Regions from separate parts of the Homo sapiens genome. Here all the other regions are linked to region 1. Evidence: fine-mapped expression QTL. A gene starts in region 1. Each other region holds a variant in brackets. All regions are shown on one strand. Distances are from middle to middle.

Region 1 (10,507 bases):
ACTAAACACACTGGGGACACAGTGGTCACGAAGGGATCAAACCCTGGAGTACAGACACCGGGGCCCTCCAAGGAGAGGCGGAGACCCCTGCTGGGGGCACTCACTGGTAGCCCTCCTTTGCCTGTGACCTCCCAGGGTGGTCCCTGCACATATGCAGGGTGATGTCGCCACATCCTGGGCTCTGCTTGGCCACACCTACCTGGGCTGCACCCAGTGTCCCACGGGTGACCTGACCAGAGGAGGGCTCAGTGCCACAGGGCCTTGAGCCCAAGGAGGGCCCCAGCTTGCTTGGCAGGCATGAATGTGTCCCAGGGGTGGTCCTATCAATGCCCCTGCCTCAATGACTAAACTGTGAGAAGACTGGGGATGTGAAGAGGAAAAGCAGGGATGGCAACGGACGGTACTTGCAAGCCCTAAAGGTGCGACTGGCGCCGCAGTGGACACAGGACCCCTAGCAGCCCAGCCACCTGGCCAACTCTTAACAGCTCATGCTGCAGAGCCTTCAGCCCTCAATGGGACCACACAACCAGACTCCAAGTGAGCACCTTCTGAGCGGCACCCCCAGGCCTGGCTCACCAGGGGATGCTCCCTGGCTCTGGCCCCAGGAAGACTTCCTTGTGGTTGCTGCATGCCCCTCACGCCCTCCAGTCTGGTCCACAGGAGGCACCATCTACTCTTGGAACTCATAACTCTTTTAAAAATTCAAAATCATTACAGGTCATGAACCTCTGAAGTCACTTCTGAATAGTCAAACTTTCCAATTCCATAAACTCTTGAAAGACAATATGAAGAACTACTGAAGATTAAGGAGTAAAGTATCTAACTCAAAGCTGATTCCCTAAATAAAGATGTTCACTACACCTGTAAAAAAGAGAGGTGTTCTTGGCAAAAGGAACATAATGAAGAAAATCTTTGGGACAAGAAAGATCATGGGGTGCCACAAGAAGATACCACTCCGCACCCAGCAGGATGGCCATAATAAAAAGAATGGAAAAAAACAAGCATTGACAAGAAAGTGAAGAAATTGCAACCCTCATACATTGCTGGTGAAAATGTAAAATGATGCAGCTAGCTGCTTTGGCATTTCTTTAACAAGTTAAACACAGAATTACCATATGACTCAGCAATTCCACTCTTAGGTATATGCCAAAAAGAATACAAAACCTGCGCAAGAATGTTCACAGCAGCAGCACAACAGCCAAAAAGAGGAAACAACTGAAGTGGTCCATCAACTGATGAATGGATAAACAAAATACTCCATACAATGGAATATCATTAGCCATAAAAAAGAACGACACACTGACACATGTTCCAACACAGATGAACCCTGAAAACATGATGCAAGGGAAAGACACACAAAAGCCACATACTGAAATCACCAGAGTCAGCAAATCCATACAGACAGAGAGCACATTAGCGGTTGACAAGCGCTCGGGAGGGAGGACCAGGGAGTGACTGCTTAATGCTTATGACATTTCCATTTGGGGTGACAAAAAATTCTGGATAATGGTGATGGTTGTGCAATATTGTGAATGTACTTAATTGTGTACTTTAAAATGGTTAAATGGTATATTTTAAGTTATGAGTACTTCGGTGGGGCAATGGTGCATTCAGCATAAGTGAAATAAACCTTCAGACTGGTGATGCCAAGTTAACAGGTAAACATGGACCAGATGATGTGCTAAAGCATTTGGAACTTTCCCTGGAGGAAACAGAGAGTCAATGAAGTTTTAGTAACAGAGGCAGATGCTCAACTCTTCTTCAATAAAATACCAGAACTATCATTTACTAAGTAAATGCATTTACTGTGAATTCATGGTCTTTTTAATTCTCACAACTTATGTGAAGCCTGTTTAGAGATGGAGAGTCACAGAAGTTAGATAACTTGTCATGGTCCCAGAATTAGTAAAAATGCCAGGATTTGGGCTGAAGTCTTATTGTCTTTAAAGTCTATGGTCTCTTTGCTGTGTCTCACTTGGAAAGGGCAAAGTAAAGGAAACCATCAACCAGTACCTGCAGCAGGGCGTCCTGGCTGGGGAGCATGTGGCAACAGATAAAGAAGGGATGGATCTGAGAGACTTCGGAGATACATCCAATTAGGTAAAGGACTATTTGCTGAGACTAAAGGAGGAGTCAATGATTTCCCCCAACTTCCTAGCTTTGATGAATGTGCAAATGATGGTTTTATTCCCAAAGAGATACAGTGACATTGGCACTTATGTTCCTATACAACAAATCAAACATGTGTTACCATGTATAACCGGTTGCCATTCTGTATCGAAGAGGCACCTATTTTCTTAAAATATTCAAGAATCTGTTAATACATAAAACTTAGGTAACATGCCAGTTCAACCAGAAATATTTTTATCCATCAGAATTAGGAGGAAGCGGACTTTTTGCTGTCTCACCCCAGTGGCTACACTGCCCTTTGCGGAGATGTAGGCATGCACATCTCCATAGAAGTCCATCCTGGGCCCAGCCCCTGTCTACTCTCTCTACTTGTTCCCTGGGTCACCCCTTCCCTTCTCAGTCTTTCCCATCATGTGACTACGAAGGAGTCTCAGGTTTGTATCTTTAACCCAAATCTGTCTGTTTAAACTTCAGTTTACACACATAGAGTAGAAGCTCGCTTATCAGTCTCACTTTAACTGACTTGAATTGGAAAAATGACTCTCTCCAATCCCTCCCTGAAATACACGAGCTGATGCCCAAGGTATGATGACGACTTTCAGCAAGTAGGCTTCACTCTAATACATCGCAAGCTTTTGCCAGCTAAGTTGTATGTGTTCTCATATCCAGATGTGTTTGTTCTCAAATCTATTTTTGCTACCCGAACCTGTTATGGTAGTTATGTACTTTTAAGCTCATCAATGAAATATGAATGCAAAAGGAAACAGTTGTTTCTCTATAAGCTAAGTTGTATGTTTTTAAAAGGCTCACTTGAGTTTGTTAAAAAAATAATTAGGTATGGGGGAAAAATTGTAAAAGATTAAGAAAATTCTAAAGATAATCGTATCAAATTGGTTCTTAAATGCCTATATCCTTGTTTAACTTTAAATAAACTGATATTGGAAAATGTTAAGTCTGCTAAGATTAGGCCAAAACAGACACAGCCTAAAGAAAAGGCCCTGGGCTTACATCAAAAGATTGGCAAGTATAGAACTTGAGGTAAGTGGTGTAAAAAAAAAATTGGCAAGTGAATGTATACTTTCATGTTTTAAGTTAAAAACATACATCCATTTCTTCGTGATTCCTGTTTTAACCAGTTTTCTCAATTAACCAAGCAACTGCTGGGCCCAATCATGTCAGACTTTTCAGCTATCAAGTACGTATCTTTACCCAGTTGTCAACAGACACCTCAAACTCAACATGCCCAAAACTTTATTTCTCCCTCCAAATCCACTCTATTCATCTTTTTCCCAGATTACAAGCCTGGGAATCATTCTTAACTCCTCCGTGTCCCTCAGCCCACCCATTCTTATTCACCACGTCTTGGTAATGTTTCCTTCAAATATTTTAAAAATCCATTCCCTATATTTCCTATCCCTGTTACCACAGTGCTGGTTCTGAAGACAGGCATAGTTTAGTGGAAAGAATATGCGTTGAATCTTTACAAGTGTCCATCTTTTAACTGTGCTTCTGCTACTTACAAGCTGTTGAACAACATCTGTCAGACGCATGTACCGAGCGATATGAAGTGTGCATTGTGCTCGGAGAGTGAAGGGCGTTAAACGACAGCGAGGACGAGGGGCACGAGCCCGGCCTGCAGCACGGCCACAGCCTCGCGCTTACTCCTCCATCGCCTCCTGGAGTCCCCGAATTCATCCCGCATCCTGCTGGGAAACAGCGTCCATCCGACACAGCACCGCCCACAGCGGGCCCTCGGCGTGGCCCGCAGGCCCTTCGGACCGCCTGGGAGCGCGGCCACACGTGCCAGCAAGTGAGGGCAGCGACCTGGGACCGCCGCGTCTACTTACACCGCGACGACTCCGCGATCCACGGACACCGCCCGGCCCCCACGGCGGCCCTGCAGGGGAGAACTCGGGCCGCCTTCCCGAGTCCCGGCCGCCGCTGTTCGGCTCGCGCGGCTGCCCGCCGGGGACCCGAACGGAAGAAGGGTGGCGAGGCGGGAAAGGAAAAGGCCTGAGGGTCCAAGGCAGGAGGGGACACACGGAACACGCCGAGGGCCAACCACGCCGCCGCGCGCTCCCCGGCTAGGACCCACCTGCTGCAGGTACTGGTTAATGGTAATGTGCGCCATGGGAGCGCCGCCGAACGGAGAGCGCCACCCCCTACGCCTCAAGCGGGCCAGCTGGCGTCACTTCCGGCCCTCGGTCCGTCTGGGTCCTGGCGCCCCCGGCCCCGCCGCGGGTGCGCAGGTTGGTTCCGGAGGGAGAACCTGGGGACCGGCTCGGCGACGCGCTCGGGCTGAGGGGGCCCGGGGTCTTTCTGCCGGGGCCCCGTCCTCTCAGCCGGGACGCCAGCGGCTCTGATTGTGTGTTCGGGCCCGCCCGGGCTGAGGGGTTTGGGGTCCAGTGGCGAGGACAGCCCCACGGCTAAACTGCCTTTCACTGCGCTGACCCTTCGTCTGCCCCTTGTGAAAACCAGGCCGCGGAGGACCCTCCGCGCCTGGCTGGGCCAGGGCCTCGGGGCGCGCGCGCCCGAGGAGGGGGAGGGGGAGGGACATGGCGCGCGCTCCCGAGCTCTCATAAGGTGCCTCCGCCGCGCGCTCCCGAGCCTGCAGGAGTTAGGGCACGTCCCGGCGCGCACCCCTGAGCCCTCGAGGTGGTCTCACGCCCGGGGTGGGGGTGCCGAGCCCTCAGGAGGCGCGCGCCCCGGGGCCCTCAGGAGGGTGTCCCGGCTCCCGATCCCCTCAGGAGGGGTGCCCGCGGCACGCATCCCCGAGCCAGGAGGGGGTGCCCGGAGCCCTGGGGGCAGGGTCTCGGTGCGCCCCCCGGAGCCGGGGGTGAGGGTCCCGATCCCTCAGGACGGGAGTCCCGGCGCGCGCCCTCGAGCCAGGAGGGGGTGTCCGAATCTCTTAGGGGGAGTCCGATCCCTCAGGAGGGATTCCCGGCGCGCGTTCCTAAGCCCTCAGGAGTAGCCGGGCGCGGCGGCGGTTGGGCTCGGGCACGCGGGCGGGGCGGGGCGGGGCGCGCGAGGAGGACGGGGCGGAGGCCGCGCGGACCGGGGCGGGCGGAGCGGAGCTCGGCGGGCGGCGGCGCTCGGGGCGGGGCGCGGCGGTTCCGGCCCAGCCATGGCGGACGAGGCCCCGCGGAAGGGCAGCTTCTCGGCGCTCGTGGGCCGCACCAACGGCCTCACCAAGCCCGCGGCCCTGGCCGCCGCGCCCGCCAAGCCGGGGGGCGCGGGCGGCTCCAAGAAGCTGGTCATCAAGAACTTCCGAGGTGGGTGCGGCGGCCGGGTCGAGGGCCAGGCGCCCCGGGCGGGGACCCCACGAGACCCCGCCCGACTTGGGGGGAAGGCCCCGAGATCCGTGCGGGCCCCGGGAGCGGGGGCGCCGGGGCGCCGGCCGGGTCGGGGGTGGCTACGCGGGGCGCTTCGCGGCGCGCCCTGAGCCGCCCGCTCTCCCTCCGCCCTGCAGACAGACCTCGGCTGCCCGACAACTACACGCAGGACACGTGGCGGAAGCTGCACGAGGCGGTGCGGGCCGTGCAGAGCAGCACCTCCATCAGGTACAACCTCGAGGAGCTCTACCAGGTGAGGCGGCGGCCGGGGCTGGGGACGCCGCTCCTGCCCCGCGTGACGCAGACGCGGCCGGGCGGCCGCTCCGGGTGCCTCGCAGGCTCTCGCCGGGGAGCGGAAAGGCAGGGCGTTTGCCTCCACTGCAGGGCCGGGAGCCCCAGAGGCAACAAGTGGTTTTGTTTATTGCCGTGGTGGAATTTTTGTTTTCAGGCTTAAGCTGCTTAGAACCATATTTAAAGTTATCCCATTACGGAAGAGAAGGAGGTGTGTTTCTAGGAGCCACGTGACTCATATTTTGCAAGTATACGGCAAATTATTTTCTCGTTATATGTAAAACTCATGACTGTGTCACTTGCCACAGTAATAAGAGGGTCTTTTCTCTGTTGTGTTTTGTGATTAATGGTTGCCTTTAAGATATTCAAACAGATTTTGAAAAAATTCAAAATTCAGAAAAAGTGGTTTTGTTCTCTGTTGTGTTTTGTGATTAGTGGTTGCCTTTAAGGTATTCAAACAGATTTGGTAGCATTTAATTCAAAGTGATGGTGTTCCGTTTCTGAAGTAACAAAAAAGTACATTTTACCATACTTGGATATTTTATTTATAAGCGACTTTTTTTCTGGTGTCTTCTTTTTGTAAAGTAACATTCATTCAGTAGTCTAATATCTATATTTTAGGTCACGATGTGTCATACAATTATTTCTATTAAAAGGCTTGAATTAAAAAAACTTTTTTTCTGGATATGCAAGTGACTGCATTGTAAAAATTATAAAAAATACAAAAAAGAAGACTTCAATCACCTATACTCCTACCACCCAAAGAAAACTACTGTTGACAGTTTGGTGTACATACATCCATTCTTTGTCTGAAGTGTAAGTGGATGATGTTTTCTTACCAGCTTTGAGATAGAGTCTACATATAATGTGCACTTCAGGAAGTTTTAACAGATGCATGCAGTTACGTAACCGGCACCACGGTCAAGATGGAATCTTTCTTGGTAGAATGGTAGAATATTGCTACCACCCCCGAAATTGCCATGACCACTTTTGCAGTCAGCCCTCTCCCCTGACTCCTAGCCCTTGGCGGTCCCCCATTTGCTTTCTGTTACTATATTTTGCGATTTCTAGAACCTTATCTAAATGCAGTCATGTATTTCATAGTCTTTTGTATCTGGCTTTCACTTAGGACAGTGCTTTTGAGATTCATGCACAACGCAGTGTGATTGTAATTTATTACCTAGTAGAATGGGTATACCACAGTTGTTTTATCCATTCACCAGTTAATGGACATTTGGGTGTCCATGTTTGGGGTTTTTTGTTTGTTTGTTCTTTGAGACGGAGTTTCACTCTTGTGGCCCAGGCTGGAGTGCCATGGCACGATCTTGGCTCACTGCAACCTCCACCTCGCAGGTTCAAGCGATTCTCCTGCCTCAGCCTCCCGAGTCGCTGGGATTACAGGCACCTGCCACCACGCCTGGCTAATTTTTGTATTTTTAGTAGAGTCGGGGTTTCGCCATGTTGGGCAGGCTGGTCTCAAACTCCTGACCTCAGGTGATCCACCCACCTCGGTCTCTCAAAGTGCTGGGTTTACCAGCATAAGCCACCGCGCCTGGCCTTGGGTTGTTTTAAATAAAGCTGCTGTAAACATTTGTGAATAACCCTTTGTTTGGACATATATTCTTACTCCTCTCAGGTGAGTTCTGCTTACTTCTTTATCTAGAAGTAAGTTCTCAGGGTCATATGGAAAATGTATGTTTAACTTTGTACGGAATTTCTTGTTTTTGCAAGTGACTGCCCCTTTTGCGTCTCTCCCAGCAGTGTATGGGAGCTCCGGTTCCACTCCGCCACCAGCGTGTGCGTCTCTCCCAGCAGTGTATGGGAGCTCCAGTTCCACTCCGCCACCAGCGTGTGGTGTCCTCAGTCTGTAACTTTAGCTGTGCTTGTGGGTGTGTGGTGGAGTGTCATTGTAGTTTTAGTTTGCATTTCCCTCTGATGCTAAGCATCTTTGTATTTACTTGCCATTCTATGTATCTTCGTTGACGAAGTGTCTATTTAAATATTTTGCTCATTTTTATTGGGTTGGTTATTTTCTTATTATTGAGTATTTGAGTTTATTATGTATTCTGGATACAAGTCCTGTATCAGATATTCGCCTTGCAAATACTTTCTGCCTAGTCTTCAACTTGTCTTTTGATTCTCTTAACTGTGCCATTTGAAGAGTAATTGTTTTAAGTTTTCAAGTCACATGTATCAGTTTGTTCTTCTATGGATTGTGCTTTTAGTATCCAAGAAATCTTGCTTAATCTGAGGTCACAAAGTTTTCTCTTATACTTTCTTCCAGACATTTTAGAGTTTTAGGTTTTACATCTAGGTCTACGATCTATGTAGAGTGAATTTTTGTATATATTGTGAAATACAAATCTAGAGTCAGAGTCGGGTGCAGTGGCTCATGCCTGTAATCCCAGCACTTTGGGAGGCCAAGGTGGGTAGATCGCCTGAGCGTCAGGATTTTGAGACCAGCCTGGCCAACATGGTGAAACCCCATCTCTACTAAAAGTACAAAAAATTAGCCGGGCGTGGTGGCAGGCACCTGTAATCCCAGCTACTTGGGAGGCTGAGGCCGGAGAATCGCTTGAACCCGGGAGGCGGAGGTTGCAGTGAGCCGAGGTTGTGCCACTGTACTCCAGCCTGAGCAACAGAGTGAGACTCCATTTCAAAAAAATACAAAGAAAAGTCTAGAGTCAGTGTTTTCCCTGCAAATGTCCAGTTTTTCAGTCTCTTTTCCCCTACTGAATTGCCTTTGCTCCTTTGTCAAAAACCACGTAGGAGTAGGAGGAGTGAGTTGTGAAATCAGGGTGTGTTGGCCCCCCAGCTTCATACATTTGCACAGGTTTCTGGCTATTCTTGGTCCCTTGTGTTTCCATGTGAATTTTAGAATCGGCCAATTTGTATAAGAAAGTGTGCTAAGATTTTGATTGACGGTATATAGAATCTACAGATCAATGTAGGAGAATTAAATTCTTAACAGTATTGAGAGTCTGGGCTCAGTGGCTCACACCTGTAATCCCAGCACTTTGGGGGGCTGAGGTGGCCTGATCGCTTGAGCCCAGGAGTTCGAGACCAGCCTAGGCAACATGGTGAAACCCCATCTCTACAAAAAATTTAAAAATTAGCCTAGTGGGGTGTTGCATGCCTGTAGTCCCAGCTACTCAGGGCCCCCACACCACAACCTGGAAGCTCTTCACACAGGAAGCTGAGCAGTTGGGGCCTGTTTGTCTCCCATCTTTCTGAGATTCACTGTCTTTCATAGCCCAGTACTCAGTGCTTCGAAAACTGTTGCTTCGTATATTTTGCCTGATTTTGTGGTTATTTCAGGCAGAAAGTTAATACAGTTCTTGTACTGTGTCTTGACTAGAAACGAGTCCCACCTGAACTCTCAGAGGTCTTTGGTTTAATAAAATATGATACCTTACAGCTAAAGCTTCTTACTACTCTTTTCCTGGAGATTTGGCTGTCTGATATCTGCTGCCTCATTATTTTTACTTAAAAAGGCGGAATTACTTTGCAACACCTTGTACACAGTGATATGTCTTATAAAACAATCACTAGATATTATGAACAATGTTTGTAGGTGCCTTAGGTGTCTGTCTTGAAACCCTGAGAACTAGGAGTGCTTACCCCAAAATGACAGTCACTGGTTCCTCCTTGGAATGAGACATCGCAAATTCCAGGGGCATCTCTGGAGGTGCTGCCCCACCAGGGGATATGTGGAATCAGTTGATTCACTTACTTGTGATCATCTCTCCACGCACAGGTGGGCTTCTGGCCTCTCACAGAGTCTGAAGCATGAGCTGCCTCAGATCTATTGGAAGCAAATGGGATAGAAATCTAAGAAAAGCAAATGTGAAATTACTGATGTCTGATCAAGCAGGCAATACATTTGACTTGGTGTTTCAAAATAAAGTCTCAGTTTTTGTATAGGTGGGGTGGTGTATACTTTGCCAAAGAATCTTATGTGAAAGGACCAATTCTCACCCAAGTTTGAAAGGTTTGGTTTCGTGTTTGGTTTTTGGTTTTGCTCACTCTCCCTCTACGTCTAAACACCTTAGGAGTCCTGTCACTTACACTTTTTGGGCCTCAGCTGGCCTGTTGTTTCTGTTTGTTACTTTGTTTTTATCATTTTCCTCCTGTAGTGTGTAGAGGAGAATGTTGTGAAGGCATGGATCTTTTCCATTGAACGACCTGAATTTCGGTCTGTAATAACTAACTCCTGAAGAAAGTGCATCTTCTGTGTCTTGTGTCTCTATGTTTTAGTCCTGCTTGTTGCTAAATGAGACAACAGAAAACTGAAGACTGCATTTCTAGAAAGGTTTCAGAGAAAGGCTGTGTTTTGATTTAGAACTGGTTTTTTTGTTTTTTGTTGCACAAAAACAAACCTCTCAGGCCCTTTAAAAAAAAAGAGAGAGAGAGGTGTGGCCTCCCTATGTTGTCCAGGCTCCTTGGGAACTCCTGGACTCAAACAGTCCTCCTGCCTTGGCCTCCCGAAGTGCTGGGATTCCAGGCGTGAGCCATTGCACCCGGCTGACATGCAAGTTCTGAGGAAAGCCAGGCTGTCTTTCTTGAGTCACGGAGTAGTTGTCTTCATGACATGTTGATACCAGGTGATAATGGTCAGTGAAAGAGAGAGGTTAGTCCTTTGTATTAGGTGGCATCCTTCCCTCACACCCAAGCTGCAGGCCCAGCGTAGGAATGGGACCTCCACAGCCACACAGGTCTCATCCTGTGTGGCTGTGAAGGTCGCTATATGACTC
Region 2 (10,507 bases), 49 kb before region 1:
AGAGGACACCCCAACATCTGAAGGACACGACAAAGACCCCAAAGGAAGGAAGATTCTCCTCAGGTATACAGAAGGAAAGTAAACCAGTCAATGGAAAAAGTGTCCCAATGTTGGTTGGTTTGTTTTTCAGAACAGAAGAGGGTGACAGAAGAACGATTATTCATATGAGAGATGAGGAAGATGAGTAGAACGAGGTGAATCTTAATGTTTGGACAATTTATTATTGTAGAATTTTTGGTCCAAAGGTGGTATCTTTGAGAAGGCAGATGAGAAAATTAAATCACCACATACAACACGGTCAGTCCACGTACAACACAGTCAATCACAGCTGTGGCCTCGATGTTGATGCCTTCCTGTATTAGTCTGTTCTCATGTCACTGTGAAGAAATACTTGAGACTAGGTAATTTATAAAGAAAAGCGGTTTAATGAACTCACAGTTCCACATGGCTGGGGAGGCCTCAGGAAACATAATCATGGCAAGCAGGCACCTCTTCACAGGGTGGCAGGAGAGAGAAAATGTGTGTCAATCACAGGGGGAAGCCCCTTATAAAATCATTAGCTCTTGTGAGAATGCACTCACTATCACAAGAACCACCTCCATGATTCAATCACCTCCACCTGGTCCTGCCCTTGACCTGTGGGGATTATTACAATTCAAGGTGAGATTTGGTTGGGGACACAGAGCCAAACCATCCCCCAAAACTCACGTTGAAACCTAACCCCCTGTGCAATAGTACTAGGAGGTGGGGCCTCTGGGAGGCACTCTGCCTTCATGGATGGATGACTGCCCTCCCAAAAGAGGCTCCAGGGAGCACCCACATTCCTCCCTTCCACCATCCAAGGACACGTCTATGAATCATGGGCCGTCACCAGACACTGAGTCTACTGGAGCCTTGATCTTGGACTTCCCATCCTCCAGAACTGTGAGCACTACGTTTCTGTTTATCGTAAATTACCCACTCTAAGGTGTTTTGTTACAGCAGCCCCAACAGACTAAAATGGTCCATGAGGGAAGAGGTTGTAGCTCAGATACCCATGTCAGGCATATAGGATGTGCTTAATTAACACTTATTGATCGAATGTGTATGTCCCTGTCTGCCTTTCCATTTTTAGGCAGCTATTGATGGTTTTTAAACTATCCAGCAGAAGTATTTTTAATGTAAATTTCCATGTGGGAATACATTTTCACACAAAAAAAGGCACCTTTTCTTAAGTGAAGGCCACGTAGATTGCCAGGCTGGTGCAATTCACCCAAGAGCTATCCTATACAATCAACTTCTGGCTTTCAAATTATTTTAACTCACTCACTAAAGATAAACTTTATTTTCTTTTCCCAGCTTTTTAAAGCAAACTTCACAACTTCAGTGTATTTGCGGGCATGCCCTCTTAATCAAGGGTGTCAGCTTCTTAGTTTTCTTCTGTTCCCACTTTAACAAAATTGTATTTAGAATCCTTTCATTGAGTTTTGCCACCTTTGAGTGTCATTCAATCGAACAATATCTATATGCTGACAATGCTGTCATTTCATCTGTTACCACCTGAATCTCCACTGTGAGTCCCAGCTTCTCGGATGCCCACTCCTGTCTCCACCTGGACATCCCACAGACACCTCAAATTTGCCAAACCTCGCTTCCCTCTGCCCTCCTGGAGCTTGGCCGTCTCAGCACACGCACTGCCATCCTCCCAATCGCTCAGCCCAAACCTTGGAGCCGTGCTGCCCGACACAATTCATCATGAATCCCATCAGCTTTCCCTTCCTGAAGCATCCAGACTGCAAACGTGCTTCCTGCTGCATGGCTGCACCCTCACCCCCTCCTGGACTAGCCGGCAGCCTCCCTTTTGACTTCTCTGGAATGTTCTGTTCTCCACACAGCAGCCCAGTGATCCCTTCAGAGCACAAATCTTTCCATGTCAATTCCTGTTCCCTCCAATATCTTCCCAACACAGTGAAAATGAAACACCAGGTTCTTACCTCAGGCTTCAAGGGCTGATATGGTTTGGCTGTGTCCCCACCGAAATCTTATCTTGAATTGTAATCCCCATAGTCCCCACGTGTCCTGGGAGGGACCCGGTGGGAGGTAATTGAATCATGGGGGTGGTTTCCACCATGCTATTCTTGGGATAGTGAGTGAGTCTCAAGAGATTTGATGGTTTTATAAGGATCTGGCATTTCCCCTGCTTCAGTCATTCTCTCTGCTGCCACCCTGTGAAGAGGTGCCTTCTGCCATAATTATAAGTTTCCTGAGGCCTCCCCAGCCATGTGGAACTGGGAGTCAACTAAACCTCTTTTCTTAAATTACCCAGTCTTGGCTATTTCTTCATAACAGTGTAAGAAGGGACTAATACACAGGGCCTACATCTGAAAGCAGCAAACGACAACCCTGGGGCCAAATCTGGCCCCTTAATAGCTCTTATAAATAAAGCTTTATTGGCACACAGCCAAGTGTTCATTCATGATTGTCTATGCTGCCTCTGCTACAATGGTGCTGAGCTGTAGTGACAGACACTATTTGGCCCTTCCCCGCTTTCTCCCTCCTCCCTCCCTCCCTTCCTTTTCTCCCCTTCCTTCTTTCCATCCTCCTGCTTTCCCTCCCTCACTCCCTCCTGTCTCTTTCCCTCGTTCTTTTCTGTGTATTCCACACACACCTAGAACGTAAGCTGCATGTGACTTTGTCTGTCCCGCCCAGTGCTGTGTCCCCAGGGCCTATCTCACCTCCATTGACCACACACGGGCATGGGTGCCACCTTCCACCTTGCACCTGCTGCCTTTACCTTCTGTTCTCTGTCTCCCTAAATATCTCCCAGGGTCCTCTGAGCCTTCACCGTTCATTTCTCTGCCTGGCCTCAAACAGAAAACGTCAGGAGGGAAGCACACAGCTGCACAGGTCGTGCCCCGAGGCTCCTGCTGCCGGCACCTCCCCCAGCCTGGACTTTGGCTGTGTTTGTAGCCCTGTCCCAGCGCTCCGGGTGGGAATGGCAGGCTGCGTCCCACTGCTCCAGGGCCTGGTCCTGGTCCTCGCCCTCCATCGTGTGGAGCCCTCAGGTAGGCATCTGGCTTACCTGTCTGTTGTGCCTGTGCTGTGTCTTTCTTGACTCGGTCCATGGTGGATTTGTAGATGAGGCTTTTTCCAGGAGCCAGAGGAGCCCTGAGTGCCCAGACTAGTCTTAATTCCCCTGAAAAAGCTGTTTGGATCTTTATCATTTGGTGACAAGTATTTGGGACATGATAGTGTCACTTGGGGTCCTCCCAAGAGATGCCCAAATGGAAAGAAGCCTGTGTGCAGGGGATTCAGCCGGGAAAGGCCGGGGAGAGGGGAGGGGGAAAGGGGGAGGAGTGGGGGGAGGCCTGGGTTGGGCATTGGACGAGGGGAGGGGGTGGGGCAGGCTGAGCCCAGACTGCAATGTGGGCAGAGAGAGCCTTGGCCAGGCCAGCCAGGAATGCCCAGTCTTGAGTCAGGAGACATAGCCAGGGAGCAGCCACCCTGCCTGCCTGCCACCCTTCTACCACCAGCCACTTCACTGAAGGAACGACATGGACTCCATTCTGACTCTGCCTGCACAGGCGTCCAGGAAAGCTGCAAGTCAAAACACCCAGCATCCCCGCTGGCCCCATGGTCTCCCGCTGGCCCCATGGTCTCCCACCCTGAGAGGGTGATCCCCCCGCCCTGCCCTGCCCAGCACTTACCGTAGCCGGACTTAGCTGAGCCCCCCCTGCTGTAACCCTCAGCACCGAGAGAAAAGGAGGGAGGATGGGAAGGGCCTGGGCTTTGACCCTCCCGGAGAGGGAGAGAACATGCTTTGGGACCCTCAGGTGGGAAGAGGCTCCAGAGACCACTGCCGCGGGTCAACTCATTTGCCTTCTCCTCCTGGAAATCGCAGAGCCTGCTGCAATGTATAAGTTTCTTCTTTATGTGTTTTATCAAGATGTTAAATGCTGCGCACAGAGGCAGCACAGGAGCTGATGGCTCTTGGTCCCCAGTTCTCAGTACGGGGACCTTTGACCCCAGCTCAGCCTTCCTTCGCACTCAGACCCAAAACCCAGTTGGAGCCCTCCCTCCTCCACTTTCCTGACTGAGGCCCGTGGCCTCTCTGCAGAACCTTAGTGTATCCGCACTGATCCTGGGGCTGATCCATTCGCCCAGAGGATGAAGTGCTTGCCTACCTCGGGGGAGGGAGTAGCGGGGTGGCCCTGAGGCCCTCGCAGGCTGAGAGCCTGTGGAGACGGACGGGGCTGGGGCTGGCGGCCGGCCGGGGAGGAAGCCAGGCAGCTCTGGAAAGCAGGGCCCTCGGTGCTCCCAGTCACCTGCCTTCTTGTCTCGTCTGTAGTATTTCTCCCGGCCTCCAAAGCAAACGACGTTCTGGTGAGGTGGAAGCGTGCGGGCTCCTATCTTCTGGAAGAACTCTTCGAGGGAAACTTGGAAAAAGAATGTTATGAAGAAATCTGTGTCTATGAAGAAGCAAGAGAAGTGTTTGAAAATGAAGTAGTCACTGTATGTACCCCCACCACAAACCACAGGCCTCCTCATTATTTAGACTTCTGCTGGCCCAGGGAGCATCATTTCTCAGAGATTAAGCTTAATTAATTA[G/GC]CCTATTTACTTACCGATGAGGTTGACACAATCCCAGTTTTACAGATGAGGAAACAATTTAGAGAATCGACTTAATCCACCTTTCCCTACAGCAGTGAGTGGGGCTGGAAGTCAGCTCAGAGCCCACTGGACTCATTTCTTCAGGTCAGGCAAGGCCCACACACTGATCAGACACCCAGCATACATTTTCTTTCTAGGCTTCAAGTCTGAATAATTCTCCTAATTTTAGATACTCCTACCCCAAACTAAGTGTCCCCACTCCCTACAGAGGTATATATCTTTAAAATTCAACTCGGTTTATAAAAAGCGAAAAGGTGATGTGACTTCTATATCATGTGCTTTTGTGGAGGGTGGCGTGGAGATTGGCCCTAGAAGGGAAGGGCCACGTTAGGGGCTGTGGGTGGTGGGTTTGTGCCATGTCATAGACTCTGGCCTTCCTCAAATAGGTGGTGGTAAGCACATGTTGAGTAATATATCTTACAGATACATTTAGTTACTATACATTTAACATAAACAAATAGGCTGTAAAACAGGAAAATTGTGCATTGTTTCAACCACTATTGTCCTATTAAGTGAATAAAATCAACATTTTCTTACCTTCAAGTTCATCTACAGGAAAGAATATAGAAAAACAAATATCCCATTTGTAACATTTTTATGTTTTAACTCTAAAGGATGAATTCTGGAGACGATATAAGGGTAAGTGGTTTCCTTCGTCTCCTCAGAAGTATTAATTCCTCGGGATGAGGTGCGTGGGTGGGCTTAGGACGCTTCACGACCCCAGCTCAGCGGATGCCAAGCCTCTGGCTCCAGGACCCACGGTGTCTCTCCAGGGAAGGGCAGCTCCGACTCTCCCCAAGGACCAGGTCAGGAAGCCCCCGGGCTCTGCCACCAGGGCCACAGGCAGTGCCTGGTTTGTCTTGCCCAGTGTCTGGGTAGTTTCTTGGCACTCTGGGACATGGGCCACAGGCCAGGAGGGCCCCCCCAGAGCAGCTCCTCCAGCCGCCTGGCTCCTGGGCTCCTGGGAAGCCTCATGCTGCAGCAGGGTCAGAACTCGTCTCAAATTTTGGAAAGTCATGGCCCCGATGGAGACTTTGGTTAGGAGACTCCTCCCAAGGGAGGAGCTCTAGGTGGGCAACTGCAGAAGAGCATGGGACAGAAGTAACACAGATGGAGACCCACGGGGCTGGGGGAGGCCAGGGTAAGGACCCACCTGGGAATGAGTAAGCAAAGAGCTGCAGCCACCACCAGACAAGCACGGGGACAACTGGGCACAGAAGGAAGCGGGAGAGGCAGGGAAGGCCGGAGAAGGGCTGATGGGGCGGGACAGAGGGGACCGCGTGCGGACGAAGAAAGGGCACCCAGCAGAGTGGGAGGCACTGGCAGCCAGGCCTTACATCCGGAGCGGGGAGCGTCCTGGGGGCCAGGCGATGGCATGGGGAGCAGCATGAGCAGGCTCAGTCCCCATTCCTGCCACCCCCTGCCCCCCCGTCCTCCTCCTGCTCAGGTCCCCGTCCCTGCCACCTCCTCACATCCTCCTCCTGCTCAGGTCCCCGTCCCTGCCACGTCCCCCCATCCTCCTCCTGCTCAGGTCCCCGTCCCTGCCACGTCCCCACATCCTCCTCCTGCTCAGGTCCCCGTCCCTGCCACCTCCCCCCATCCTCCTCCTGCTCAGGTCCCCGTCCCTGCCACCTCCCCACATCCTCCTCCTGCTCAGGTCCTCGTCCCTGCCACCTCCTCACATCCTCCTCCTGCTCAGGTCCCCGTCCCTGCCACGTCCCCACATCCTCCTCCTGCTCAGGTCCTCGTCCCTGCCACCTCCCCCCATCCTCCTCCTGCTCAGGTCCCCGTCCCTGCCACGTCCCCACATCCTCCTCCTGCTCAGGTCCCCGTCCCTGCCACGTCCCCACATCCTCCTCCTGCTCAGGTCCCCGTCCCTGCCACGTCCCCCCATCCTCCTCCTGCTCAGGTCCCCGTCCCTGCCACCTCCCCACATCCTCCTCCTGCTCAGGTCCCCGTCCCTGCCACCTCCCCACATCCTCCTCCTGCTCAGGTCCCCGTCCCTGCCACCTCCCCACATCCTCCTCCTGCTCAGGTCCCCGTCCCTGCCACGTCCCCTCATCCTCCTCCTGCTCAGGTCCCCGTCCCTGCCACCTCCCCACATCCTCCTCCTGCTCAGGTCCCCGTCCCTGCCACCTCCCCACATCCTCCTCCTGCTCAGGTCCCCGTCCCTGCCACCTCCCCACATCCTCCTCCTGCTCAGGTCCCCGTCCCTGCCACCTCCCCACATCCTCCTCCTGCTCAGGTCCCCGTCCCTGCCACGTCCCCTCATCCTCCTCCTGCTCAGGTCCCCGTCCCTGCCACCTCCTCACATCCTCCTCCTGCTCAGGTCCCCGTCCCTGCCACCTCCCCACATCCTCCTCCTGCTCAGGTCCCCGTCCCTGCCACCTCCCCACATCCTCCTCCTGCTCAGGTCCCCGTCCCTGCCACGTCCCCCCATCCTCCTCCTGCTCAGGTCCCCGTCCCTGCTCCACTCTGTCCTCCTCCTGCTCTGGTCCCTGTTCCTGTCACCCCACCCTCCTCCTGCTCAGGTGCTCAGGTCCCCGTCCCTGCTGCCACCCCCCACTCCATCCTCCTCCTGCTCAGGTCCCCATTCCTGTCACCACCCCCACCCTCCTCCTGCTCAGGTCCCCGTTCCTGTCACCACCACCCCAACCCCCATCCTCCTCCTGCAGGCGGCTCCCCGTGCATCTCCCAGCCCTGCCTCCACAACGGCTCTTGCCAGGACAGCATCTGGGGCTACACCTGCACCTGCTCCCCCGGCTATGAGGGCAGCAACTGCGAGCTGGGTGAGGCCCCGGCCGTCCCCTTCCCCCAAGGGCCTCCCTGGGCAGGTGGGCCTCACATCCTCGGCCAGAGTCCCAATGGGCCCCTCCTGAGGTGTAGCCATGAAGGTGCCTGTGTGAACCGCGATTTGGCTCACCCCAGGGGATTCCTCTCATCCCAACCAGATTCTCCTCCAGAAACCACGCCGGGGGCTGGCTGCATTCTGAGCTGCCCCTTCCAGACAGGCCCCCATACTTTTCATAGCAGGGGCCCCTCTCCTCCCCCCACCACCTCAACCATTCACAATCTGCTCACAGGCTGGGGGGGTCACACACAGGCGTCCTCAGTGCCAGACTCCCAGTGGGAGACTGCAGACAGGGAAGACGCAAAGCACGTAAACAAATATCCTTAAATACCCGCCAAATGTCAGTGTCCATCATCGCCAACTACAGCAACAAGCGTGCTCCGCTCTCAGCACCACTGGTCAACTTGGAGCCCGTTTCTCTGGGGAAAACCTTCCTCCCAGCCGAGCCCTCTCCTCCGAAGTCCAGATTTCTGCTCCATCTGCCTCCTTGATGCCCCAGCTAATGCCTTCACAGACACCCCAAATTTACCACGTACCAAAGGGGGCTTTGACCTTCACCCACCATGTGCCCCTTTCTTAATCTTCTCCCTCTTGGTGGAAAGCCCCCATCCCAGCTGCTCAGCCACCACCGATGTCACACTAACCCCCTCCCATCCCACGTCCCCTCCTTGAAGAAGCAGCAATTTAAAGGGAATAGCCAATGCAAGCCGGCAGACAAAACAGGCGCGTGGATTAGTCCATGTGGAAAAAGGACAAATAGAAGTGTCATCACTCATGGAGTCTTTTTTTTTTTTTAATTTTTATTTTATTTTTGAGATGGAGTCTCGCTCTGTCGCCAGGCTGGAGTGCAGTGACGCGATGTCAGCTCACTGCAACCTTTTGCCTCCTGGGTTCAAGTGATTCTCCTGCCTCAGCCTCCCGAGTAACTGGGACTACAGGCACGCGCCACCACGCCTGGCTAATTTTTGTATTTTTAGTAGAGATGGGGTTTCACCATGTTGGCCAGGCTGGTCTTGATCTCCTGACCTCGTGATCCGCCCACCTCGGCCTCCCAAAGTGCTGGGATTACAGGCATGAGCCACCGCGCCCGGCCTCACTCACGGAGTCTTTGTTCTACATGCACATTCCTGAAATACGGACATGTGGGAAACACTGACACAGAGGACAACGATCTGAAGAGAATGAGAACACATGGACCAACACACCAGAACTCTTGTGTGCAAGGCTGTGATAAAATGAACATGGACCAACACACAGAACTGTGTGCAAGGCTGTGATAAAATGACTATTTCCAAGCTAGCATTTCCTTTTTTTTTTTTCCTTTTCAGCTAAAAATGAATGTCACCCAGAGCGGACTGATGGGTGTCAACACTTCTGCCTCCCAGGACAGGAATCCTACACATGCAGCTGTGCTCAGGGCTACAGGCTTGGTGAGGACCACAAACAGTGTGTGCCCCACGGTGAGTGCTCAGACCACAGCGGCCTCCAGCTTCCAATGCCAGCGACCCCGTCCACATCCTCCTTCCTTCTGTAGTACTGGGTGAAGCCCGCGGATTTGTGATAAGCAGTTGCCACGACTCAGAAGGTGGTCCGCGTCTCCACGCTGGAGCAATGGCCATGCTAGAAAGTGCAGTTTCTGTCACTAGTGCTTGCTCGGACCACTCTGAGCTAAACCATGAGTGCTGTGAGGGGTGGTTTAACTCCAGTCTGTGTGTCTGTGAATTACTGCACATTCATCAGCATTAAGGATAAGATTATAATGGTTAGTACCATAGACGGAATTATGCAACGGTTAACACCATAGACAGAGTCCGATATTCGCTGAGAAGGCGCTGATTTTTATTCTCATGTTGCTGCCGCAAATGCAGACCAGTGTGCCTGCGGGGTGCTGACCTCTGAGAAGCGTGCACCGGATCTACAGGACCTCCCGTGGCAGGTAACAGAGCGCTCTCCGCGTGCTTCAATTTATTGTTATGACTTTCACCTCACTTGTCATTTCCTAAATAGAAATGTTGACAACTAAGTGAATCAGGCATCCTGACTTTGATGGGCTACTGACTGCACTGACCAACCTCTATTCACACTTCCAACCATGTTCTAATGCCGAGTTCATAACTAATACAAAAGGACAGCATTATTTACAGCCCCCAAGACCTTTCCTCTGCAGTTCCAAACTGTTACCAATGTCATTTTCTCAGAACATAAGCATCTCAAAATCTCTGCTCTCGGCTGCTGGCCTGGCATTCTAGCTTTGTTACTTTGTTCACTAAATTTCTCTAGTTTGGCATTCATTTTTGTTCTCCTTTTCCCCTCCTTGGCTGGTTTAGAAGTTAACCATTCATTTGTTTTTGGTTTGTTTTTTTTGAGATGGAGTCTCAATCTGTCACCCAGCCTGGAGTGCAGTGGTCCAGTCCCGGCTCACTGCAACCTCTGCCTCCTGGGCACAAGCGCTTTCCCTGCCTCCACCTCCTGAGTAGCTGGGATTACAGGAATGTGCCACCACGCCCGGCTGATTTTTATATTTTTAGTAGAGACGGGGTTTCACCATGTTGGACAGGATGGTCTCGAATGCCTGACCTCAAGTGACCCACCTGCCTTGGCCTCCCAAAGTGCTGGGATTACAGGCGTGAGCCACCACGCCTGGCCTCATCATTCACTTTCTGTTTACTTAATGGTCACTCTTGACACATAAACATCCATATTTAGCACAAGTAGTCAGCTATTTCTCCCTCCTCAGGCTAATTCCCAGCACCTCATTCTGGGTCCATTTGCTGTCTGGCCAGTATTTTATTCTTTTCTTGCTTTCTGTATATCTTCACAAAATAGATATTACGATTTTTGTTATTATGGTTTTATACCACCCACACTGGCTTTGATTTACTTACCTCATTTTCCACTTTCCTTGCCTTTCAGGCCTCTAACACAATTATCTCCTGCCTGAGTATATCCTTCAGAACAGCCTTGTCCAATAGAAATGCAGTGTAAACCACATAATTTAAAATTTTCTAG
Region 3 (10,507 bases), 62 kb after region 1:
AATACCTAGTAACAAATAGGGAAACACCTATGTGAAAGGTATTATAACATTACTAAGGAACACAGGCCCTGAATAAGTGAAAGTTCTGTTGATTCTCACATTTTGCTATACAGTATCTTAAGATGTAAAACCTTCCTTTAAAACACAAGCGGATTCTAAAGTTAAAACAGAAAAGCAAATATGCCAGACTAGTCAAATTGTTTTAAATTCTGCTGTTTTTAGAACATTGTAATTGAAACAGCATGATGCTGGCCCTTTAAAAAGATTCCTGGAACAAGAAAGTCCACAAATAAGCCAAATACACAGGAACTCGGCGTGGCACAAAGGGGCCGTGTGTGATCAGGAACTGGAACTTTGCAACAACTACCCATGCTCAGAAGTTTGGGCCACCTTGAAAAGAGAAAAGTTGGATTAGACTCCTTTTTATACTAAGGGAAGTTCCAAGTGGTCAAGTATTTACGTGTAAAAAAATACATATATATGAAACCATAATCATAAGATACTTTTTTTGTAAATTGACTATTATTGTATAAATTTATAGAGTATAAAGTGATCTTATAAATTATGCATACATTGTGGACTAGTCAAGCTAGTTACATCCATCACCTCAAATACTTAACATTTTTGTAGTGAGAACATCTGAAATTTACTCTTAGCAATTTTGAAATGTACAATACTCAATTTTTGACTGTATTCACCATGCTGTACAATAGAACTCAGAAAAAGAAAAATATAGTCCTCCTTTCTAAGATTTTTGGACCCGTTGCCCCTTTATTTGTGTTTTTCCACTAAGTGATCTAGTGAATTCACATCGATTTTTTTAAAAAAGGATTGACATTAAATGACATCTTTTAAAGTCAACATGGGGGAAAACAAGGTTAAAAAAACTGGAACCCTTGCCGGGCACCATGGCTCATCCCTGTAATCCCAGCACTTTGGGAGTCTGAGGCGGGCGGATCACGAGGTCAGGAGATCGAGACCATCCTGGCTAACACAGTGAAACCCCGTCTGTACTGAAAATACAAAAAAAAAAGCCCAACGTGGCGGCAGGCGTCTGTAGTCCCAGTTGCTGGGGAGGCTGAGGCAGGAGAATGGCGTGAACCCGGGAGGCGGAGCTTACAGTGAGCTGAGATCACGCCACTGCTCTCCAGCCTGGATGACAGAGCAAAACTCCATCTCAAAAAAAAAAAAAAACTGGAACCATCTTGGATAAAATGTACGACAAAGTACTGATGAGTTTAATGTTAACAGAACTAGAAGTCAGCAAGAAGACCAGCAACAAGCCTTCGGATAAGTGAGTTCTTCATTAGCTTTAAGAGAGTGGGAGCAGAGGAAACGGGTACCGTGAGGGCAGACCTGCTTTCAAGAACAGATGAACAGCGGCTGAGAATGACTCCAAGAGGTCGCAGGAGCAGAGCTGCATTTCAGTGGCAGGTGACTGGGCATTGTCCTGCAGCAAGGCCCTAATATCCCAGGAGAGGGCAGGATCGAGGGCACAGGGAGTGGGGGCAGGTGAGGGCTGGCCATAGGTGTGGTGCCGGGGGAGACATTGGTTGTGACGGTGACCATGGCCCTAGGCTGGAGGGTGGGGGGGTCATGTAACATGAAGATTTAGGAGGTAAGCTTGGAGGGCGCAGCTGTTGGCAATGATGGTCTGGGTGAGGACAGACGGGGAACTGGGGCCAGAGCATGGGAGACAAGACCTGATGGTCGTCCAGCAGTCAGGGACGGTGACAGGAGCCAGTGATGGAGGCCCTGAGTGCAGGACAGCCCTGAGGCCTGGAGGTGGGCCAGCCAGTGAGAAGGGCGCACCCCCGCCGGGGTGTCCAGCAGCATGGAAGGAGCATGGCCTGGAAGCAGCAATGGGCAGAAGGGAGGGCCTCGCCCCAGATGCAGCCCCAGGGGGAGGGTCACGAAGTGAGCAGCGGGCCTCTGCCCCCTCCACGGAGGCATGGGCACCCTGTGGTGGGTTTGGAAGGAGAAACCAGGCAGTGGCCAGGCCCAGGCCTTGTGCAGCAGCCCGGGAAGTTCAGGGGAAGAGGAGTGCAGGTGTTAGGACCGCCTAGTAAGAACGTTTAGGAGATGGAGGTTTTGTCAACAGACTGAATTCAGAAAGGGCTGGAGGGGGCAGAGGTGACAGTTGGGCCATGTGAGAGTGAGAGGCCCAGCAGTGATGGGGGACAGGCTGGTGGGCTCTGGTGAGGGAGGTCAGCTCGAGGGATCTGAGACATTGTGAAATGATGGTCTCTCAGGTAAATTTGTGAGGGTATATTAAATTCGAAAATGCCCACACCTTTGACCCAGTAAGTTCCTTTCACTCACGTAGAATGATTTCTAGTACTGTTCTCGCACACACAGAAAATACCTTAAATGTCCTTCAATAAGGAAACAGACCATGTGCTAAGTCCATGCATGTGTGATATTCTGACCATGCAGCTTGAACCAAGATCTAGATGTCCATTTGGAGTGAGTGTCAAGAAATACCACGTAAGAAAAGAGAGCAGTGCCGTCCTGCCACCACTGTGTGTGCGGCCCGTGTACGTGTGAATAACGACGGCTCAACTCCAGAATGGAGTTCTGGAAGGCTGCGAGCAGGTATGCGAGAATCTTTTCTATGCATATACCATTTTGTATTTTTTTAATTTTGTGTCAAAAGAATGTTTAAAAGTAATGACAAATTATTAAGAAAACAAAATGGCCCCACCCACTGTGTTGTTTCTTTACCATAAAACACAAGGAATCAGCCAACCCAAAGTAATTGCACTTCCCCGCCCGCTCTCCTCCCAACCTAATCCACTGTTGTCATCAGTTATTTTATGGGTTACCTTTGTAATTGTAATGGACATATTGAAACCCTATTCTCTCGATCCATGAATATACTCAGTTTCTCATGAAAACCTCCTGTATTGGCAGGCCAGGCACAGTGGCTCACACCTGTAATCCCAGCACTTTGGGAGGCCGAGGCGGCGGATCACGAGGTCAGAAGATCAAGACCATCCTGGCTAACACAGTGAAACCCGTCTCTACCAAACAAAAAATTAGCCAGGCGTGGTGGCGCACGCCTGTAGTCCCAGCTACTCGGGAGGCTGAGGCAGGAAAATCACTTGAACCTGGGGGGCAGAGCTTGCAGTGAGCCAAGATCGCACCACTGCACTCCAGCCTGGGCGACAGAGCGAGACTCTGTCTCAAAAAAAAGAGAAATGTAATCCTTTGTTTGTGCAGCTCAAAGAATATTCTAAGCATCAAAGACAAGCTATTTCTTTCCACATTCCATTAAAGCTGAAAATGTATGTCATGTTTTAACTTGCTTTATATTTGCACTATGGCATTTTTGTCCAGCTTTTTTTTTTCCTGGAGTTTTTAATTGCTACTGATGACCAAAAAAAAAAAAAAAAAAAGATGCCTTTTGTCTTATCACTAAGATAATTTCCTTATCACAGTTTGCATAAACCCAATTTTTTTCTTAAAACACACATTTCGGAGCTGGTCACGGTGGCTCAAGCCTGTAATCCCAACACTAGGAGGCCGAGGCAGGAGGATCATGAGGTCAGGAATTCCAGACCAGCCTGTCCAACATGGTGAAACCCCATCTCTACAAAAAATACAAAAATTAGCTGGGCGTAGTGGCTCGTACCTGTAGTCCCAGCTACTTGGGAGGCTGAGGCAGGAGAATCGCTTGAACCCAGGAGGATGAGCTTGCAGTGAGCCGAGATTGCACCATTGCACTCCAGCCTGGGTGACAGAGCGAGACTCTGTCTCAAAAAAAAAAAAAAAATCATTTATCAGAATCCTCTAATAGTGGTTTTCTTGTTGTTTTGGGGTTTTCGTGGTTTTTTTTTTTATATGGAGGCTCACTCTGTCATTCAGGCTCGGGTACAGTGGTGCAATCTCAGCTCACTGCAACCTCCGCTTCCCAGGTTCAAGTGATTCTCCTGCCTTAGCCTCTGGAGTAGCTGAGATTACAGGTGTGTGCAACCACACCTGGCTAATTTTTGTATTTTTAGTAGAGACAGGGTTTCACTGTTGTCCAGGCTGGTCTCAAACTCCTGACCTCAAGTGATCTGCACGCCTCAGCCTCCCAAAGTGACAGGATTACAGCTGTAAGCCACGGCACCTGGCCCTCGGATAAGTAGTTTGGTTTTGGTTTTGAGACGGGAGTGCAGTGGCGCAATCTCGGCTCACTGCAACCTCAGCCTCCTGGGTTCAAGCAATTCTCCTGCCTCAGCCTCCTGAGAAGCTGGGATTACAAGCGTGTGCCACCACGCCTGGCTAATTTTTTTTGTATTTTTAGTAGAGATGGGGTTTCACCATATTGGTCAGGCTGGTTTCAAACTCCTGACCTTGTGATCCGCCTGCCGTGGCCTCCAAAAGTACTGGGATTACAGGCGTGAGCCACCGCGCCTGGCCTAATAGTTTTTTAAATTGAACTATGGGCCAGGCATGGTGGCTAACACCTATAATCCCAGTACTTTGGGAGGCTGAGGTGGAAGGATTGCTGGAGGCCAGGAGTTTGAGACCAGCCTGGATAACAGACCTCAGCTCTACAAAAAAATTTAACAATTAGCCAGGCATGCTGGTGCTTGCCTGTAGTCCCAGCTTCTCAGGAGGCTGAGGTGGCAGGATCACTTGAGCCTGTGAAGTTGAGGCTGCAGTGAGCTATGATCGCACCACTGCACTCCAGCCTGGGCGACAGAGTGAGACCCTGTCTCAAAAAATAAATTAATAAATAAAAATAATATAAATAATACAATGAATCAGCTGGGCGCAGTGGCTCACGCCTGTAATCCCAGCACTTTGGGAGGCCGAGGCAGGCGGATCATGAGGTCAGGAGATTGAGACCATCCTGGCTAACATAGTTAAACCCCATCTCTACTAAAAATACAAATAATAATAATAATACAATGAATCATTTGCCTCTTTTTTTTTAAGAGACGAGGTCTCACTGTGTTTCCCAGGCCAGAGTAGAGTGCCCTGGCCATTCCCAGGCACAATTCGATGCACCCCTACTTCCGGCCACATCATTTGGCTTTTGAGCCCCTGCATAGCTGTGATCCTGGAACCCATTTTCTCTGCATTCCTGTGTAGTTCCACTCCTTGGATCTCAGTCTTCTCTTTTTCTTGTCTTCTGGTTTTATTAAGTAGATTCTTTTTTTTTTTTTTTTTTTGAGACAGTCTCACTCTGTTGCCCAGGCTGGAGAGTGCAGTGGCACGATCTCAGCTCACTACAATCTCTGCTTCTTGGGTTCAAGCGATTCTCCTGCCTCAGCTTCCCAAGTAACTGGGATTACAGGTACACCACCACGCCCAGCTAATTTTTGTATTTTCAGTAGACATGGGGTGTTGCCATTTAGCCAGGCTGGTCTCAAACTCCTAACCTGCCTCAGCCTCCTGAGTAGCTGGGATTACAGGCACACGCCACCACGCCCAGCTAATTTTTGTATTTTCAGTAGAGAAAAAGCCAGGCTGGTCTCGAACTTCTGACCTCAGGTGATCCACCCACCTCGGCCTCCCAAAGTGCTGATTATAGGCGTGAGCCACTGTGCCGGGCCTCATTAGGTAGATTCTTAAATGATCTTCTCAGAAAGAATGCCTGGGAGACAAATTTCCTGAATCCTGGCTGGACTGTTTTTATTTTACACTTGTGTTTGATTGTTGGTCTACATAAAAACTCTAGGCTCAAAATCACTTTCCCTCAGAACTTTGAAGGGATTGCACTGCCATAGTCTTCTATTTTCTAGCTCTAAAGTCTGATGCCATTTTGTTAACTAACCTGTAGTTCTTTCATGTCACTTTTGGAATCTTCTGTTCCTGGACTTTTGGTATCTCACAAGAGTGTCTCGGTGTGTGTCCACTTTCATTTGGCCTCTGCCAGCCACCCACTGAGCCTTCAGACTGGAAGACTCCGGACTTCTGTTCCAGGAAGTGTTCTTTTTTGACATTCTACATTGCCTCTTCCCCTTCAACTTCTTTGCTGTCACTTTCCTTAGCACTAATCTTTCTAAGTAAACCAACTGGAAGGTCTAATGAGAAGAAGGGCTGGCCTCACCCCTCCCCACTCATAGTTCACTGTCCATCTTTGTTTCTGGTTAGCTTTTCTCTTGGTGGCCTCTATTATCAGATTATTGTTTCTTGGTTTTCTTTTTAATAAAAGATTGTTTTATGTTTTTATATTATTTCTTATTTTTCTTTTTAATAAAAAATTGTTTTTATTTTATTTCTAGAATATCTTCTTGAACCTCAAACTGTCCTCAATGGGTTAGCAGGAATTACACGCCGGGTTCTGGGCAGAAATGGAGTCATAACTAAGCATGAATCAGGCTGCACTTTGGCCCACTTCCTTGTAACTGGAAGTCTTGTAGCCCTGGATACTGATCATTTGCACCCCCATTATTCTCATAGATAGGACCACTGACGTTAGAACCATAAGGCTTTAAACATTGCTTAATATGTTTTTCAGATCCTCAATTCCAGCAGAACAGCTGACATCAACCAGTCAAAGGCTCCCACAGGGCGCTGAGGCGGCATGAGAATGCAG[G/T]TTCTTCATCCCCCCATCCCATGATTTTAGCCTGCACTCTTCAACCCATCAGCAACTCCCACACCTCGGCCACTCCGAAACCCTTAAAATCCCCAGCCCCAAACTCCTCTGAGAGGCGCGTTCAAGGCTTCCTCTGTCTCTTGTTCAGTTCCCCTCTGGGTGTTAAGCTCCGTCTCTGCTGCAATCCCCAGTGTCTCAGTGTACTGACTTCCTGCACATCAGGCAAATGATGTTAGGATTAAAATTACACACCAGTGGGGCGCGGTGGCTCAAGCCTATAATCCCAGCCCTTTGGGAGGCCAAGGTGGGCAGATTGTTTGAGCCTAGGAGCTCAAGACCAGCCTGGGCAACATAGTGAAAACCCATCTCTACAAAAAAATATAAAAATTAGCCAGGTGTGGTGGCACATGCCTATACTCCTGGCTGCTCAGAAGGCAGAGGTGGGAGGATTGCTTGAGCCCAGGAAGTCAAGGCTGCAGTGAGCCATGATGGCACCACTGCACTCCAGCCTGGGCAACAGCGCTAGATGCCGTCAAGAAAAAAATTGAACTAGTGCCTCAGAGAGTTGTCAATTTTTTTTCTTTAAGACAGGTCTCAAGCTCAAGCACGTGTGTTGTGATCTGGGCCCCCATTCGTCAGGCTTCTGAAGTCGTGTTTTTAGGCACAAGCCTGTCCCCAAGTCTATAGCATCTGGTGCACAGTGCTCAGTAAACACTGAGGAGTGAATGAAGCAGGGCCAGTGGAAGGAACAAAGACCAGCAAGATAAGAATGGGGAGAAGTACGAGTGTGACAGAACAAAAGAAGGGAGTTTTAAGGTATGGTGAGAATCAGAAACAGACCATCACGGTGGCATCTCGGGCCATTCAGTTTGTGTGCTGGGCCCGACGGGTAGTGGGTGCGGCGAGATGTAGCTGGAGGCAAGGCAGAGGCCAGGGAGAGCTGCTCTCGGGTAATGAGAATTGAGCAAGCATCAAACTGAGCAAGCAAGAGAGAAAAGGGGAGAATCTGAGCATACGGAAAGGAGAAATAACTGCGGGCAGGTTTCCCAAACAGCAGGGGAAACCACATCCCCGCGCAGCGTGCTCCTCCCAGGGAACAGAACAGGGAAACCACATCCCCGCGCAGTGTGCTCCCCCGGCAGAGGTCCTAAGGAAGCCGAGGGGCGGACAGCCGAGCAGAGGTAAGGCTTTCTGTGGTCCGTGATGGAGGAACCAAGGCCAACTGCAGCACAAGTTGAGGGAGCATTGTACTGAGAAGTGGACGCCTGCCAGGAGTCCACTCTTCACAGAATGAACAGCACCTTCAAGGCACTGGGATCAGCAGAGAAGCTTTAACACTGGCCAGGTCCCCCCTCTGCCAGGTCCTCCATCTGTCACTCTCCAGGTGCCCCTGAGCAAATTCCTGCAATTCTTTAAACCTTGGTTTTCTTATAAGTGGAGATAATAATCCTACTTACCTCATGGGGTGGTTCCAAGTGAACACACACAAAGCTGCTTAGGACACGTACTACACACCAGCAAAGAGGAATGAGTCACAGTCACGCACAAGCACAGTGCCTCTTCATCAGGAAAACCCAGTTCCATACAAATCTAAGTGGCTTATCTTCAGAAACATTAGTGAAGAGCTGAAGCAAACACTGTCAGCTGGGAAGTCTGTATTCAGTGAACATACATTTCTGAATGGAGGCAAAGTATGCCTTTTCAGACAGAGACCTCTAGTAGGAGAAGTGCAGGAGGAAGGAGCTTCAGCTGCTGGAAAGCAAAGCCAGATAGAAGCCAGGGTCTGCCGAAGGCCTGGGGAGCGCCCGCACTTGCAAGCATTTGGGTAGACACTCACACAAATTAGCTACACAATCATTATTTTCTTTAAAAACAACTGTTGAAAGCAAAAATAATATATGTTGGCATTAATACCATATGTAGAAGTAAAACGAATGACACGACACAAAGAATGGGGAAAGAAATGGTCTGGTGAGTGTGATGAGCTAGAGATGCGTGTGACAGCCCTGGGGGAAAGGGGAGATGGTCTAGTGAGTGTGATGAGCCAGAGATGTGTGTGACAGCCCTGGGGGAAAGGGGAGATGGTCTAGTGAGTGTGATGAGCCAGAGATGTGTGTGGTAACCCTGGGGCAGCCACTAACAATACCAGAGAGAGAGGCAAAGAGAGAAAGAACAAGCCAACAGAGGAGACAAAGTATAATTTGAAAGAACACTCAATCCAAAGTGTTGACAAAGAGTCAAACTGTGAAATATTTGAAGAGATTTATTCTGAGCCAAGTATGAGTGACCAATGGCTCATGACGCAGCCTCAGGAGGTCCTGAGAACATGTGCCCAGGGTGGTCAGGACACAGACTAATTTATTTTTAGGGAGACATGAGACATCAATCAAATACATGTAAGATGTACGTTAGTTTGGTCTGGAACAGGGGCTGTGGGAGGCTTCCAGGTTATAGGTAGATCTAAAATGTTTCTGATTGGCAATTGGTTGAAAGAGTTATTATCTAAAGACCTGGAATCAACAGAAAGGAATGTCTGGGTTATAATAAGGGGCTGTGGAGACCAAACTTTCACCATGCAGATGCAGCCTCCAGGTGGCAGGCTTCAGAGGGAACAGATTCTCATGAGGCTTAAAGAGTCTGTTCTATCAATAATTCCAAAAGGCGGTATCATGAGTCATGTCTGACCCCTGCCCCCATCATGGCCGGAGCCAGCCCTTCAGGTTAGCCTTGGAAATGCCCTCCCTGATACAGCGGTCCATTCAGATGGTCTGAGGGGGCTTTGAATTTTATGTTTGTTTTACAAAAGGCAGACAGGAAATTCTTTTTTTTTTTTTTTTTCAGATGGAGTCTTGCTCTGCCACCAGTCTGGAGTGCAGTCATGTGATCTTGGCTCACTGCAGCCTCTGTCTCCTGGGTTCAAGCAATTCTCCTGCCTCAGCATCCCGAGTAGCTGGGCTACAGGTACCCGCCATCATGCCCAGCTAATTTTTATATTTTTAGTAGAGACAGCGTTTCAACATGTTGGCCAGGCTTGTCTCGAACTCTTGACCTCGTGATCTGCCTGCCTCTGCCTCCCAAATTGCTGGGATTACAGGCGTGAGCCACCGCGCCTGGCCTGGAAATTCACTTTTAAAAGGGAATAAAGAACGGATAGGACAAATGGAAATGGAAAGAGGGTGGACTTGAACCTGACCATCTCATTAATTTATTGGTAACAATGACATAAACAACACTCCAGTTAAATGCCAAAGATTTTCAAGCTGTATAGAAAATTAAGACCAAAGTATATGCTGTCTACTACAAAGGCACTGTTATTTCAAGAGAGAGGATCTCACTGTGTCACCCAGGCTGGAGTGCAGTGGCACAATCACGGCTCACTGCAGCTTCAATCTGCCAGGCTCCAGCAATCCTCCCACCTCAGCCTTCTGAGTAGCAAGTGTGCGCCACCACAACTGGCCAATTGTTTATATTTTGTAGAGATGACATCTCACTGTGTTGCCCAGCCTGGTCTCAAATTCCTGGGCTCAAGTGGATCCTCTGCCTCAGCCTCCAGAACTGCTGGGACGACAGGCGTGCGTCACCATGCCCAGCCCAGAGAGTCATTTTAATAAAGACACAGATGAGTTAAAGGATGAAGAAAGACCACGAGACGCACGCAGCTGGCATTGTCTTCTCTGTACAACTGTTACAGCAGTTTCCAGAGCCTACTCTCTCCTGGGCACAAGGGCATTTCTTAAGGAAAGACTCCTTGCACCAGCTGCAGAAGGGGCAACAGGTCCCAAACAAGCAGATCACTGTGGGCGTGTTGGAGAAGCTGGTGAGGCGCGTGCTCTCTGCCTCTGGGAAGGTCTCTGATGAGCTTGCTCTTGTGCGTGCTACGGAAGATCAGTGTAAAGGTGGCATGGTGGATCTGCAGATGGCAGCTTATTTCTTCAGACACCTAAAATTATGGCAGATAAAGATGACTCTGTG

What was found.
Region 2: its variant is fine-mapped to the expression of CUL4A in whole blood (TOPMed, PIP 0.98).
Region 3: its variant is fine-mapped to the expression of CUL4A in whole blood (INTERVAL, PIP above 0.99). The same link has a PIP of 0.9 or more in macrophages and monocytes after LPS.

The regions. Positions count from the first base shown.
Region 1 is chr13:113,204,374-113,214,880 of GRCh38, forward strand. CUL4A (cullin 4A) reads left to right here and starts at 5,240. Exons shown (of 20, transcript NM_001008895.4): 1 at 5,240-5,402; 2 at 5,600-5,715. The coding sequence starts at 5,255. It overlaps PCID2 (PCI domain containing 2), which reads right to left and starts at 4,296. Exons shown (of 14, transcript NM_001127202.4): 1 at 4,226-4,296. The coding sequence starts at 4,261. RefSeq lists enhancers at 3,351-4,001, 4,002-4,651 and silencers at 4,186-4,475, 4,736-5,005, 5,106-5,435, 5,496-5,735.
Region 2 is chr13:113,155,687-113,166,193 of GRCh38, forward strand. PROZ (protein Z, vitamin K dependent plasma glycoprotein) reads left to right here and starts at 2,962. Exons shown (of 8, transcript NM_003891.3): 1 at 2,962-3,044; 2 at 4,328-4,491; 3 at 5,262-5,286; 4 at 7,323-7,436; 5 at 8,827-8,958; 6 at 9,367-9,434. The coding sequence starts at 2,975. LOC124903216 (a long non-coding RNA gene) reads left to right here. Exons shown (of 4, transcript XR_007063880.1): 3 at 131-194; 4 at 844-924. It also overlaps a transcript of PCID2 not described here. RefSeq lists enhancers at 2,445-3,022, 3,599-4,176. The variant G/GC (reference allele first, on the strand shown) is at 4,588.
Region 3 is chr13:113,266,358-113,276,864 of GRCh38, forward strand. CUL4A (cullin 4A) reads left to right here. Exons shown (of 20, transcript NM_001008895.4): 20 at 1-751. It also overlaps the pseudogene LDHBP1. Among named protein-coding and RNA genes, the nearest start is that of MIR8075, 8.7 kb to the left of the region's middle. RefSeq lists enhancers at 7,625-8,124, 9,077-9,371. The variant G/T (reference allele first, on the strand shown) is at 6,536.